Linked DNA regions of Homo sapiens. The protein of the gene in region 1 purifies or fractionates together with the protein of each later gene. This does not show direct contact. Each region holds a gene or a part of one and is shown in the gene's direction. Other genes may lie near its edges.

Region 1 (3,511 bases):
CGCTGCATGCCCAGCTGCAGAGCGCGCTGGCCGGGCTGGGCCATGAGATCCGCACTGGCGTCCGCACCCTGGCCGAGCAGGTACCTTGTCCGACCGCACAGTCACCCCATCCCATCCCGTCTTCAGCCTACCTGGCTCCAGCAGCACCTGGGCCAAGGTCCAACCCTGACCCCTTCGTGCGTCTAAACTCAGGCCCTAAGGAACTCTTCCATCCCCGACTCATGCCCTGACCTCCCTCCTTCTTCCGTTTTGTGTCTCCAGTTGGAGGTGGGCATCGCCAAGCACATCCAGAAACTGGTGGGCGTCAGGGAGTCTGTCCTGCCTGAGGATGTAAGTGGCCCTTCTGCCTGCTGGCCTTCACCACCCTGCCAGCTCTGTAGATCTGGGGTCATTGAAGGCCTTGGTGTCAAAGATAAGTCCCCCAGACCAGGCAAAGCATGTTCTCTCCCTGGGCCTCAGTTTCCTCCTGGGATGCTCACAGGAACGGGTTGGGTCACTCCACTGGCTGTCCCAGCACTGACAGTCAATGAGGGGGCTGCAGTTGGGGACGGCTTAGACTTTGCAGCCAAACAGGCCAGGGTGCACATCCTTCTCAGCTGCCTCCTAGCTTTGCCGTCCTGTTCACACAAGCCAGCTGACCTGTAAGTGGGGGCATATCATGATGCACACCTTCGACTGGCGGGTAGAAGGATATTCATTCATTCACCAACTATTTATTAGGTCCCCACTTTGTCCTATGCATTGATTTAAGCACTGGGGATAGGTCAGTGAACAATATGACAAAATACCTGCTTTCCTGGAGCCCACGTTCTAGTAGTGGAGGTGAAAAAAGAGCTACATAGTGAGTATCCATAACTATAGTGATAGTTATAGCTGTTAACTCTATGCACAGGCGTGTATGCGCGTGCACACACATGCAGTGTGCTAGATAATGATAAGTCTACAGAGAAAATTTAAAACAGAGAAGCGGCTGAGAAGTGTCAGAGGGTTGTATTTTTAGATGGTGGCCAGGGAAGGCCGTGACAACTGAGCGAAGACCTACGGGAAGCAAGGGGAGGAGGCATGAGAAGTTCTAGGGGAGGAGCATTCCAGGCAGAGGGAACGGCAAGGGCAGAGACCCTGAGGCAGGACCATGCCTGGAAGGTTCCAGGGCTGTAGAGGAGGCCAGTGTGGCTGGGACAGGCTGAGCAACGGAGAGGGGAAGGCAGAGAGGTGGGCAGGCCGGCCTCTTACAGACACTACAAACTGCTCTCACAGAACGGTTCCCAGCCCTGTTTCCTCCCTCCAGGTCAGGGGAAGGGGATGGGGGTGGGGCCAACATGGGCCGGAGCCACACCTGCTCCCCATCTCCCTCCCCAGGCCATTCTGCCCCTGATGAAGTTCCTGGAGGTGGAGCTTTGCTACATGAACACCAACTTGGTGCAGGAGAACTTCAGCAGGTCTGTAGCAGCCCCTGCCCTGGGCGCGCTCGCCACCTCCCCCTCTCCTCCCACGGCCCCTCCTTCCTGGGCCCCAGCATCCGTTCTGAGGGGTGTAGCAGCCCCTGCCCTGGGCGCGCTCGCCACCTCCCCCTCTCCTCCCACGGCCCCTCTTTCCTGGGCCTCAGCATCCGTTCTGAGGGGTGGAGGTGAATCCCTTTGGTGACCTCCCTTATGGGTGCAACAGGCTCTGCTAAGGCTCGCTGCAGGGACGGGGAGCTTGCCACTTCTCAGGCCTCCCCATTTCCTGCTGCCTAGCTCTGAGTGCTTTGAGTTCTTCCTTAGGCTGAGCCAAAATCTACCTGTCCTTTCTCCTTTAGTCCCAGGCCTGTCTTCAGGGCCTCCCTGCCTGCTCCTCTGCCCCCATTAGGTTACAGGTGGTCCCTGCCCACGGTGCAGGGAGAACTTCTAGCTAGGGTGTCTTATAGCAGGGACCCAGCATGCCAGGCAACAGGCGGTGGAGTCCAGCACATGGGCTCTGGACCACCTGGGTTCAGACTCCGGCTTCATCACTGCTTAGCAGCCTTGGGCAAGTTCCCGGTGCAGATGAGAGTAGTTCTGGCTTCTGTTGAGGATTAAATGGGTCATGTGAGGTGCTGAGCGTGGTGTCAGTACAAAGGAAGTGGTCAGTGACTATTAGCGGTAGTGACGATGATGATGACAGCGCCCCACCTCCCTGTGGAATCTGGGCCCTGAAGAGGCCGCAGCCCTCCTAGAGTTCTGTTCCACCCCCAGAGGTATAAGCCAGGGCCCCTCGGAGCCCGGCCGTTTTTATTTCTTAAACCATGTATATATATTTTTTATTTTTTTGAGACGGAGTCTCGCTCTGTCGCCCAGGCTGGAGTGCAGTGGCGCGATCTCAGCTCACTGCAACCTCCGCCTCCGGGTTCAAGTGATTCCCTGCCTCAGCCTGCTGAGTAACTGGGACTACAGGTGCATGCCATTATGCCTGGCTAATTGTTTTTTTGAGATGGAGTCTTGCTCTGTTGCCAGGCCAGAGTGCAGTGGTGCAATCTTGGCTCACTGCAACCTCCGCCTCCTGGGTTCAAGCGATTCTCCTGCCTCAGCCTCCCAAGTAGCTGGGACTACAGGCACGTGCCACAATGCCTGGCTAATTTTTGTATTTTTAGTAGAGACGGGGTTTCACCATGTTGGCCAGGATGGTCTCAATCTCTTGACCTCCTGATCCACCCACCTCGACCTCCCAAAGTGCTGGGATTACAGGCGTGAGCCACCACGCCCGGCCTGGTTCTGTCTTAAATCATGGTTGTCACTGGGGGCCTGGCCTCCTCCCTGTCTCCAGCCTTGTTTGTGCATTCCGTTAGTGTGCTGGGGAGGGTTCCTCACTGAGGTTGAGAGGTGTGTTGGATAGGACTGATCCCACCTGCCCCTTGCTGGTCCTGTACCCACCCTCTCCCCAGCCTCACCTGGGGTGGGAGGCGGAGGGGGAGGTTGGGGGTGGGAGGAGCTGGGGTGGGGCTGGGTCACTGAGGCCGCCCCTTTCTCAAGAGCGTCTTTGCTTCCTCCTCCGCCACCGCCCTGCCGTGCTGTGTCCGCATCCCTCCGGCCCCGCCCCAGCCTCCTGACCCTGCTCTGGACCCACACACTCACAGTGCTGGTGGAGGCGGCCGCCTCCCAGCGCAGCTCATCCCTGGCTTCCAACAGGCTGAAGATTGCCCTGCAGGTAACAGAACCGGTCACAGCAATGATAACCCTGGTGGGAGGGTGCCTGGGGTCACCTCTGATATCTCCCCCAGAACCTGGAGATCTGCTTCCACGCTGAGGGCTGTGGCCTGCCACCCAAGGCCCTGCACACTGCCACCTTCCAGGTAGGGGCTTTGGGTGAGCTTCCCCGTAGGAAGTCTGGGGAGCCTGCCTTTTGGCACTCACCTATGTCCAGGGTCGGCTACATAATTTATGGGGCCCAGTACAAAATGAAAAACTGGGCCCCTTATTCAAAAGTTATTACAAATTTTAGAACGGTGACGACAGAACCTGAAACCAAGCCTGGGTCCTCCTAAGCACAGGGGCCC
Region 2 (2,629 bases), on another chromosome or scaffold:
TCTCAGATAACAGCTCCGATATCCACCTGCTTATGAAGCCTGAACCCTCATTATTCCTCACAGCAGAACCACAACCAATTCCTGCTGATTTTTCTTTCTAAACATTTAGTCTTTGACATTAAGGTATTATTTACATATAATGTAGTTTTTAAAGGACATTGCTCTATCCTTACTACTGTTGGTTTGGTTCGGTTCAGGCCCTAGTCCTTTCTTTCCTGGAGAGTTGCAGTAAACTCCTAGCTGGGTTTCTTCCTTAGATGTTTCCTCATCTATGCACTCTCTAGGATGGTCCTCTCAGGACTTACCTGTGACCACATTTGGAAAGAGCGTGAATCTCCCTGCCTTGTGCCATGCACTGTGGTAATAGTGAATTGCCATGGACATATCTATTTTACTGCCTGCTACTTCCTTAGACCAAATCTTTGAGTCAGGACCCTGGAACTGAGATGGGTATAGTGGGAAGCTTTTCTCTGAGTGATACCCTGTTGTGGGTGCTGAGCTTTTGGAGAAAGGGAGGGGTGCAGCAGCCTGAGGTTGTCTTGGCTTGCCTCTTCTGCTGTGGAGCCACCTTCCTCATGAGTTGGGGGTGAGGCTTATCAGGGCCCAAGTATTCTCAGTCCTCCACGCATAAGAAGGAACTTCTTTTCCAGGAGTGGGGGCTGGACAGGAGGGAGTCCCCAGGCTCTTCCCTGCTCTATCTCAGGACTTAGCTTCAGCACCAGGTAGTTGGGGTAGGATGAGAGGCGCTCTTTCTGGGAATAAAACCCTCCCACTGGGAGTTGCAGGGAGAGTGATCCTGTATTCTTGGCTGCAGCAGTCTGGAGTGGACCCTCCTTGCTTAGATGGGAGGGCACAGGAAGGGAGCAGTCCTGCTTCAGACACCACAGACTCTGGCCATTCCTACTGAGTTTTCATAGATGTTCTTGCCAAATTTTAGTTAAGGTTTATGAAAATAAATATGTAATTTTTCTTGCCCAAACTCAAGAATACCTGAACATCTTATATGTCGAGGTTAAGCACATTAATGTTAGTCTTCTTTCTACTGGTGTGAAGCAACAGCTAAAGATTGTGGTTTTTCTTAATAATAATAGTTTACTAGTTATATATTTCCAAAGCTCATCTTTTGATGTGAAAACTCACACTGGAATAACCTTTTTAAATATGGCATTAACTGAGTATATATAGTACCTGGGTTTATGTAGGTCATTATTAGCTAGGAAGTTTTTTCAATCCCTGAATGCTAATGAAAGTGGTTTGATGTTACAGGAGTACAAGCGCAAGCTAGCCAGAGTTTCCCTGGTGCGCAAAGAACTCAGGTCCCGGATCCAGAGCCTGCCAGACTTATCTCGATTGCCCAATGTCACTGGCAGCCACATGCACCTGCCCTTTGCGGGAGACATCTACAGTGAAGATTGATGGACCAGCCTCTTTCCAGGTCCCAGGACTTTGCAAGAGATGGAGACAGGTTAGGTGGATAGTCCTGTAGTGTTATTTTTGTATATTGTTGAGAAAGAAACACTAACAAAAGGAACAACGAGTAATTTATAAAATTGTTTAAAATGTTGGTTTGTTTACTATTTTATTGGTAAATTAACATGACTTAATTTGAACAAAGTGATGATTTGTGTGTATTAATAAGCTCACAAATAGTGATTATTTTCAAAAGATCTTTTTGTAAATTTTTTTTTTGATCCAAGGCCTTGTGAGAAATCTCTTGTTTGTATTTCTTCAGGTATTTTCAATTGTTTTTCTTTATTTTCTTCAGCATTTAATCACTGTATACTATGTAATTCCTGAAGGGGAAGAACTAATTAGGAGTTGATTGAGACTTTATTATGGTATAGTTAGGACTTGATTGTAGAAGGGACTAAATGTTCCAACATAATCTTTACCCTTCTCCCCAAACAAAATATCAATTCTGTGTCTCTACATGCCTTTGATTCCTTAGAGGTCGGTAATTTAACATAAAACAGGGATGTCACTTTGAGGGGCAGATGAAAGTCTAGAGAACTGTTCCTTAATAGCATTGTAAAAGTTCCATTCCAACTGCCAGTGTAGATTTTAAAAGTGTTAAATAGTGACTCCCTTGATTAAACTGTTTGTAATTATTTGAGTAGATTAATAATGAAAATACTTTGGAAATAATATACATTTTGACATTCTACCAAGAGGACAACTTTGGTTCTGGAACTGGTTTCTATTTGTCAAATCAGTTTCCTTTTAACATAATTAATCCCTTTAACAAAAAGCCGTCTATGGGATTAAAAGACACGTGAAATGATACTTTTATTATTCCCTTGCTCATATAACTTTAAAAATAATACTTTTAGCTCTAATAGCTCAAGAACACAATATTCGTTAATGTTCAGTAAAGTAGCCTGAGACATTTTCAATGTTTCCTTAAGGTTTTTGAATGACTGTATATTTGGCAGTTAAGCAGTGCCACACTACAGGGTAGATATGGTAAATTTTATATTTGTATATTTACAGTTACAAAACAAATGTACTTTTACCTTTTATTTCTGACCCTGTGTGTTAGAGCAGTTGCATGCTCTCCTGCTGTTAAAAACACATTGTTAAGCTGTGGATTTGTACTCAATAATGACTTAGGATAAACATTTATTTTCAT

The links.
Region 2: the proteins of UNC13D (region 1) and RPRD1A fractionate together in Homo sapiens (co-fractionation; one large-scale study listed by BioGRID). This does not show direct contact.

Annotation. Positions count from the first base shown.
Region 1 is NC_000017.11:75,830,894-75,834,404, reverse strand, and holds part of UNC13D (protein unc-13 homolog D), read left to right. Parts: coding exon 1-80; intron 81-261; coding exon 262-330; intron 331-1,359; coding exon 1,360-1,439; intron 1,440-3,056; coding exon 3,057-3,162; intron 3,163-3,235; coding exon 3,236-3,307; intron 3,308-3,511. UniProt on the Homo sapiens protein: Plays a role in cytotoxic granule exocytosis in lymphocytes. Required for both granule maturation and granule docking and priming at the immunologic synapse.
Region 2 is NC_000018.10:35,991,938-35,994,566, reverse strand, and holds part of RPRD1A (regulation of nuclear pre-mRNA domain-containing protein 1A), read left to right. Parts: intron 1-1,266; coding exon 1,267-1,416; 3' UTR 1,417-2,629. UniProt on the Homo sapiens protein: Interacts with phosphorylated C-terminal heptapeptide repeat domain (CTD) of the largest RNA polymerase II subunit POLR2A, and participates in dephosphorylation of the CTD by RPAP2.